3 separate regions of the Homo sapiens genome follow, and regions 2 and 3 are each linked to region 1. Evidence: fine-mapped expression QTL. A gene starts in region 1. Each other region holds a variant in brackets. All regions are shown on one strand. Distances are between the middles of the regions.

What was found. PIP is the estimated chance that this variant, and not a neighbour inherited with it, causes the effect.
Region 2: its variant is the best candidate, but not a certain one, in a credible set for the expression of CAPN11 in skin (TwinsUK, PIP 0.70).
Region 3: its variant is the best candidate, but not a certain one, in a credible set for the expression of CAPN11 in unexposed skin (GTEx, PIP 0.81).

Annotation. Positions count from the first base shown.
Region 1 is chr6:44,157,303-44,160,062 of GRCh38, reverse strand. It overlaps CAPN11 (calpain 11), which reads right to left and starts at 1,243. Exons shown (of 23, transcript NM_007058.4): 1 at 1,199-1,243. The coding sequence starts at 1,214. It overlaps LOC107986599 (a long non-coding RNA gene), which reads left to right and starts at 1,460. Exons shown (of 3, transcript XR_002956350.2): 1 at 1,460-1,478. RefSeq lists an enhancer at 1-66.
Region 2 is chr6:44,200,399-44,203,158 of GRCh38, reverse strand. It overlaps a transcript of MYMX not described here. Among named protein-coding and RNA genes, the nearest start is that of MYMX, 15 kb to the left of the region's middle. RefSeq lists enhancers at 1-605, 606-1,605, 1,606-2,606. The variant ATG/G (reference allele first, on the strand shown) is at 1,162.
Region 3 is chr6:44,322,586-44,325,345 of GRCh38, reverse strand. No RefSeq gene overlaps it. Among named protein-coding and RNA genes, the nearest start is that of AARS2, 11 kb to the right of the region's middle. The variant T/C (reference allele first, on the strand shown) is at 1,181.

The DNA.
Region 1 (2,760 bases):
TGCTGGGTTCAAGAGATTCTCCTGCCTCAGCCTCCCGAGTAGCTGGGATTACAGGCGCCCGCCACCACGCATGGCTAATTTTTGTATTTTAGTAGAGACACGGTTTCACTATGTTGGCCAGGCTGGTCTCGAACTCCTGACCTCAGATGATCCACCTGCCTTGGCCTCCCAGAGTGCTAGGATTACAGGCGTGAACCACTGTGCCTGGCCTCTCTCAGTGATTTTCTAAATGCAATACATTGTTATTAGGGGACTATAGATTTAAGGACAGTTTGATTTCCGGCACTGGGAAAAAACTAAGATGTTGTGTCAGGGAACTTTAAAAAAAAATAAATACTAATAAGTAATAATAATAAATAAATAAATTATATTTTGAGATGAGGTCTTGCTATGCTGACCAGGCTGGTCTTGAACTCCTGGGCTCAGGGCACTTCTGAAGAACAAGGACTGGGTTTGGGGTCACCAGCTAGGCCTAAACTTCCTAGGGTCAGGTAAACAGGGAGGGCCTGAGAAGCTGGGAGGCTGGGTCTAGGGGCCCATGGTCTCACGGTGCCCCAGGCTGAGGGTGAGGTACAGGGCTGACCTTCTGCTGGCCAAGGCTGGCTGCCCTCTGTGCACCCTAGCCCCACAGGAACAACTCAGTTCTGCCCAGCCCTCCCCTTCCCCCCAGCCCACTCTCCCCCATCTCCTGGAGTCTGGTCCCAGGCTTGCCTCAGGTAGTCCTGCCCCTGCCACCCTGAGGATCTCATCTTCCTGGGCTGAGGGACCTGCTTTTCTAGGCTTAGGAGAGGTTCTCTCTGTTCCCTAAAGTTTTCTTCTCTACGTGGGCTTTTTCACACAAACCCTTTTCCCCAGCAGCCATGACAGTGGGATGGCCGGCCCCTCTCCTCTCCCCAACTCCAACTGTCAGTGGAGAGGAGAAAGAGTTCCTGCCCGGCCTACCACCCAGTCTGACCACCAGTGGCCTATCCTTCCCCAAACAGTCTGAGAACGAGGCCCAGGTCCTGTCCTTAGGGAGCATCCAGTCTGATGGAAGAGTCACTCTCTGTACCCTCAAGGGGCATCCAGTCTGATGGAAGAGTCACTCTCTGTACCCTCAAGGGGCACCCAGTCTGATGCGGGACACAGCTCCTCCCCTGGGGGGAGGCTCTAGCCTGCAGGAGGTACAGGAGTGGGGCAAGGCCCCATGAGTGCCTACCTGGGGAGTACAGCATGCTGGTGGCTAGCTCGGTGCTTGACAGTTGAAGGTTCTGGTGGGAGGGGGAGAAGAGACCCTCCCCCCAGAACTCTCTCATTGCAGTGGGATTCCTAGGTCAGCAGCCGGTTTAACAGCTGCCTTCCCTTTTCTCCTTCTCAGTAACCCAGCCCCTTACCCAGCTGAGGGCTACCCGCTTTAGGGACAGATGACCCAGCACCCCTGCCTTGCACAGCCTCCACCAGCCTGGCTGTCCTCACTGTATCACGGTCATCCCATCAGGGTAGGTCCCAGTCCCTTTTTTTCAGCCCAAGGTTTCCAGGAAGGGGTTGTCCCTGACACACCAACCTGACCTTTACATCCAGAAAGCCTTCTCATTCCCAAAAGCCCCTTTCTCACTGACATGGCATTTTTCCTGTGTTGCTGTCTTCACATGGCACCCTCCTCTGTGTCTCTTCTTCTTATAAGGACACCAGTCATATGGGGCTAGGGTCCCATGCATTTCAGTATGACCTCATCTTAATTGAACGAATTACATCTGCAACCACCCTGTTTCCAAATGAGGTCACATTCTGAAGTACTGGGGGCCAGGACTTCAACATGCCTTTTTGGGGGACACGATTCCACCTGCAACACTCTCCTTGCCTAGCCCCAGTCTGGCAAGGTTAGGCCACTGGTCTGACCACATGTCCTGCCTCTGCACTGGAAAGTGGGAATGCTTTGAGCTAAGAACTCTGCTCCAGAGTGCAGTCTTCTCTGGAGTGTATGATGGCTGAGGACAGGGACTGTCAAGGTCATCCCAGTGCCCCTCAGCCCTGCCTGGTGCTAATCAGGCACAGAACAGGTGTGAGAGCACCCAATGGGATCAGAGAACCTTGTTCCAAGCTCTGAAACAGGAGCTGACCTTGGGCGAGCCCTCCCCCTTTCTCCTTTCTGGGACTCAATCTCCTCATCTACGAGAATATTAATTATGGTTTGTTATTATGTGCCAAACACTGGGCTAAGAACTTCCTACTTATTTAATCCTTAAAACAGCCAGAGGCCATGACATTGCTATTCCCATTTTATAGATGAGGAAAGTGAGGTCTAGAGGTATGATGCAACTTGCCCAGGGTCACACAGCTGTTAAGCGGTCGAGCCAGGATTTAAACTAATAACTTCAGATTTTTTTTTTTTTTTTTTTTTTTGAGATGGAGTCTCGCTCTTTTGCCCAGGCTGGAGTGAAGTGGTGCAATCTCAGCTCACTGCAACCTCTGCCCCCCGGGTTCAAGCGATTCTCCTGCCTCAGCCTCTCAAGTAGCTGGGATTACAGGTGCCCACCACCATGCCCAGCTAATTTTTGTATTTTTAGTAGAGACGGGGTTTCGCCATGTTGGGCAGGCTGGTCTCGAACTCCTGACCTCAGGTGATCACTCGCTTCGGCCTCCCAAAGCGCTAGGATTATAGGCATAAGCCACCGTGCCCGGCCATAACTTTAGCTCTTATCCGTATCTTCTGCTGCCCCCAGCTGTGAAAGGAGGAAGTGGTCTTTGGGGATCCTGTGGTCTCCCCTGCCCACTCCTGAT
Region 2 (2,760 bases), 43 kb before region 1:
GAGGAACGGCAGGCCCTGATGGCTCCCTCTGAGAACCACCAAAGTGCGTACTCCACGGGGAACCGTGGAGGCCCCACCAAGCACTGGCCCACATCTGTGGTTGCTGTGACCTTGGCTAAGTCACATCCCACTCCTCCCAGCCTCAGTTTCCATAGCTGTGGGATCTTCCAGCGGTGAGATCCTTGGACCCTGGGGTAAGGCCCAGATACTCCTACCCCACCGCTGCCTCTTGTAAACAGAGTGAGAGATTCCTGGGCCTGGGATGATGAGGCAGGTAAAGGAAACTAGCTATTGTCTCTGGGAACAATGGGGAACTCCAGAGGGGTTTGGGCAGGGAGGTGGGGGAGGGGCAGTGGCTGGCTCCAAGGAATGGATCTAGTCTTAGTTTACTCTCTAACCCCTGACTCTTCCTGGGATTAACTGCCCTCTCCACCACCTTCCCATCCTCACTTCCATTAGCTCCACCCCACCTCCCTTGCCTGCCCCAGACATTTTCTCCAAGGCGGGAACACTAAAGCTGCTGTGGATTTCCTCAGCATTCCTGGAAAAATAACCATCTTCGTCAGGAACAAAGCCGCCAGGGAGCAGTTTCTTCCAGTTCCCAGTTTAGCCTTGTGTCATGGATCCTTCCTGCACTTCCCTGACCTCTGCCTCCCATGCTCTGCAGGCAACTTTGAGGAAACTGACCAAATCTCCTGTTTCCTTAAGGTCAATTGAAAAAAAAAAAAAATAGTATCTGGATACCAACCTGTGAAGGTGAGGACTGTGGGCTGGCACTAAGTGGCCCCTGGGATCTGCCTTTGTGGTCCACTCCCCAGATGCCCAGGGCCATCCAGAAACATTCTGGATGATGCCCATACACAGGCATCAGTTAATCGGGCCAGACATGACAACATACATTGTGTGCCAACTGTGTGAAAGCCCGTGCAAGGCTCTGGGTCAATGGTGAAGAGGACAGACACACCAAGAGCCACCAGAGTGACAGACAGCAGATGGGGAAAGCAGGAATGATAGCAAGAGTTGCACTAGAGCTAATGGGTTCTTGCCAGACCCACGGGCACCGAGAGTCCTGCTCTTCCCACCCCTTCTGCATGTCTCCACCCAGGCGCTCAAGAGCATGCTGCGACAGGCCACTGCCTCCGCATGACTTGCATTAAAAAC[ATG/G]TGTCTGGGTCCCAGCTCGTGAAGTTGGCTGGAGGTGCTTCTGAGTTGGTCGCTCTGGAACCACATGCTGGCTCTGGGACCCTCTCTCAGGGCCCCTCTGGATGCCAGAGCAGGCTGTATATTGCACAGCGGGAGTTGAGAGTGGCACCTTCCGGAGCTGTGCTATGGGGTGGTCCCCCTCCCTAAAATGGGAATTATAATAATACCTACAGCTGACCAGATAAAGAGATGAGGAGAATGTGAGGCTCAGAGTTTGGCTACCAGGTAGGTGTCTCATAAATATTAGTTTCCTTCCTTCCACCCTTATGTCAGAGGCCAGCAGAGAACTTGCTGCTCCTTGGAGGCCTGATGCAAGGCACCCTGCTGCTCATGGGCAGCACTTAGATCAGAGGCTGGGGCTCTGTTAATGCTTGAAGAATCAAGGGAGGCCTGCGGAGGCTGTGGCCCCTCGCTCTGTCATGTTTCACTGGCCTGTTGTCCTCTGGGAAATCAGCATTGGTGTGGGGCCCTTCCTGTTTGTGGGAGGTTGAGGACAGCTCTGACCCCTAAACAAGGAGTTCTGACAAGGAGCCAGGGAGGCCTCATCAAGGGCAGGGTGTGTCAAGGGGTGATGTTACCAAGGAGCAGGTGGGGAGACCTTGGGGCCAGGAACCAGAGCCAGCCAGGTATAGGCAGTGTGGGTGGGGAATGGGCGGAGTTCTAGCCCAGGAACTGGGAGCTCAGCCCTGTCATAATCACAGTGCCTTTCTGCCTGGGACAACAGGCCAGAAACCACCTACCTGAGTGAGGAGCTAGGGCCTGAATGTGACCACTGAAAGAAGAGGTGATGCGCTTTGGAGGGATGGTCCCTTATCCATGACCATCATTCCTCTGCCCACCAATTCCAGGCAATGATAGACCCATGCACAGGCGACCGGGCAGTGGGACACACACTGGATATGCCTGTAAGACATGAGCAAAATGGGCCAGGGAGTTGGAGGTTGCCTGAAAGAGTAGCTAGCACAGACAGATGGGACTCCCCAATCCACAAGAACAGTTGTTCTAGCCAGGGAGGAGGAGGTGGCCCAGGAAAGGAGCTTGTATAGAATACAGCCATTGTCCCCACTGCAACAGCTGTTGCCCACTGCCCCCCACCCCCCACTCAGCTGACAGGACCCTGAGGGTGGGAGGTGGGGGCCCTACCCTCTCTGGCAATGCCTCAGAGGGAACAGTCAGTTGTTGGGGCAGGAGACAGCTGTTTCCTGGACAGTGAGAGGGATGAGGGTGGACAGAGGAGCTTGAGGAGAAGGTAAGGAAGGACATGCCTAGCATATCTGATGTGGGGAGGGAGAGCAGCAAAAACCACAATGCCACAGGGAAAAAAATCTAATAAAAACCTGATGGCCAGGCGCGATGGCTCACGCCTGTAATCCCAGCACTTTGGGAGGCTGAGGCAGATGGATCACCTGAGGTCAGGAATTTGAGACCAGCCTGACCAACAAGGTAAAACACCATCTCTACTAAAAATGCAAAAATTAGCCAGGTGTGGTGGCAGGCGCCTGTAGTCCCAGCTACTTGGGAGGCTGAGACAGGAGAATTGCTTGAACCCGGGAGGTAG
Region 3 (2,760 bases), 170 kb before region 1:
AGTTGGGTGGATCACCTGAGGTCAGGAGTTCAAAAACAGCCTGGCCAACAGGGTGAAACCCCATCTGTACTAAAAATACAAAAATTAGCTGGGCATGGTGGTGCGTACCTGCAATCCCAGCTATTCAGGAGGCCGAGGCAGGAGGATTGCTGGAACCCAGGAGGCAGAGGCTGCAGTGAGCCGAGATCGAGCCACTGCACTCCAATCTGGGCAACAGAGCAAGACTCCATCTCAAAGTAAAATGAAATAAAATTAATAAAATAAAAAAATAAAAAATAGATGTTTACCTGTCCTATAATTTCATAAAAATTGAATCATTAAGTACACACTCTTGACCAGACAAGGTGGCTTATGCCTATAGTCCCAGTACTTTGGTAGGCCAAGGCAGCAAGATTGTTTGAGTCCAGGAGTTGGAGACCTACCTAGGCAACATAGCAAGACTCTGCCTCCACAGAAAATTTAAAAATTAGCCTGGTGTGGTGGTGCTCACCTGTAATTTCAGCTACTCCAGAGGCTGGGGTGGGAGGATTTCTTGAGCCCAGAGTTCGAGGCTGCAGTGAGCCACAATAGTGCCACTGCCCTCTTGCCTGGGAGACCAAGTGAGAGCCCATCTCTAAAATAATAATAGTAATAATAATAATTAGATTTTTAAAAATAGATGTTTGGGCCAGTCTCAGTGGCTCACACCTGTAATCCCAGCACTTTGAGAGGCCAAGGTGAGTAGATTGCTTTAGCCCAGGAGTTTGAGACCAGCCTGGACAACATGACAAAACCCCATCTCTAAAAAAATACAAAAATTAGCCGGGCATTGGTGGTGTGCACCTGTAGTCCCAGCTACTTGGGAGACGGAGGAGGGATGATCGCATGGACCCAGGAGGTAGAAGTTGCAGTGAGCTGAGATCACACCACTGCACTCCAGCCTGGGCGACAGAGCAAGACCCTGTCTCAGAAAAAAAAAAAAAGATGTTTGCCTGTTCTATAACTTCTACAACTTCACAAAAATGAAATCATTAAGTATGTACTCTTTTGTGTAAGGCTTCTTTCACTGAGCATCTTTTTAGATTCATGTATATTGTGTGTATATCACTGGTTTGTTCTTATATTGCTGAGTTGTAGTTCATTGTATGAATATATCACAGTTTGTTTATCCATTCCTTTGTTGATGGACACCTGGACCGCT[T/C]CAAGTTCTTGGTTATTACAAGTAAAGTTGCTATGAACGTCCACATACTAGTCTTTTTGAAGATAGCTCTTTTCATTTCTTTTGGTGAAATACTTAGAAGAGGAATTGCTAGGTCATGGGTAATATTATTCTTGATATGGTTAGGTTTACTGCCACCATTTTGCTATTCATTTTCTGTTTGTTCTATATGTTTTTAGTTACTCTGTTCCTCCATTTGTAACTTTTTTTTGAGTTAACTAAGTAATTTTTGTAATTCAATTTTAACTTCTCTATTAATTTTTTTTTTTTTTTGAGATGGAGTCTCGCTCTGTCACCCAGGTTGGAGTGCGGTGGCACGATCTCAGCTCACAGCAACCTCTGCCTCCCGGGTTCAAGCAATTCTCCTGCCTCAGCCTCCCAAGTAGCAGGGATTACAGGTGCACACCACCATGCCCAGCTAATTTTTTGTATTTTTAGTAGAAACGGGATTTCACCATGATGGCCAAGCTGGTTTTGAACTCCTGACCTCAAGTGATCCACCTGTCTCTGCCTCACAAAGTGCTAGGATTACAGGTTTGAGCCAGCGTTCTATTGAGCCACCTTCTCTATTAATTTTTAATGATCTTTTGGCCAGGGACAGTGGCTCACACTTGTAATCCCAGCACTTTGGGAAGCTGAGGCGGACAGATTGCTTGAGCCCAGGAGTTCAAGACCAGCCTAGGCAACATGGTGAAATCCTGCCTTTACCAAAAACACAAAAATTACCTGGGCATGGTGGCACGCACCTGTAGTCCCAGCTACTAGGGAGGCTGAAGTACGAGGATTGCTTGAGCCTGGGAGGTCAAGGCTGCAGTGAGCTGTGAGTGTACCACTGTACTCCAGATGGGTAACAGAACAAGACCTTGTCTCAAAAATAAATAAATCAAATTAAAAGTTAAATTTGTAATGATATTTTGTTGCACTTTTTAAAATTGAGGTAAAATTTACATAACACTAAAATAAGCATTTTAAAGTGTACAATTCAGAGGCATCTAGTACATTCACAATGTTCTGCAACCACCACCTCTATCTAGAGCTAAAACATTTTCATCATCCCGAAATAAGACTCTGTATCCATTAAGCCACACTTCCCATTCTCTTCTTCCTCAGCACCTGGAAACCACCAATCTGCTGTCTCTGTGAATTTACCTATCCTGGACATTTCATATAAGTGAAATCATACAACATATGCCCTTTTATGTCTGGCTTCTTTCATTTAGAGTAATGTTTTCGAGGTCCATCCCCATTGTAGCACGTATCAGGATTTCATTTCTTTCTATGATTGACTAGTATTCCATTGTATGCACATACCACTTTCCATTTATCCATTCATCCACTGATGGGCATTTGGGTTGTTTCCCCCACAATGAATAGCGCTGCTCATTGCATGATTTTTTTAGTGGTTGCTGTAAAGCAGAAATTTTCAGATGTTTAGTTTCAGGTTGTGCTCCTAAAAAGTATTGAAAACCCCCAAAGAGCTTCTATGTGGGTAATATCTATTAGAAATTAAACAGGGAGGCCAGGCGCAGTGGCTCATGCCTGTAATCCCAGCACTTCGGGAG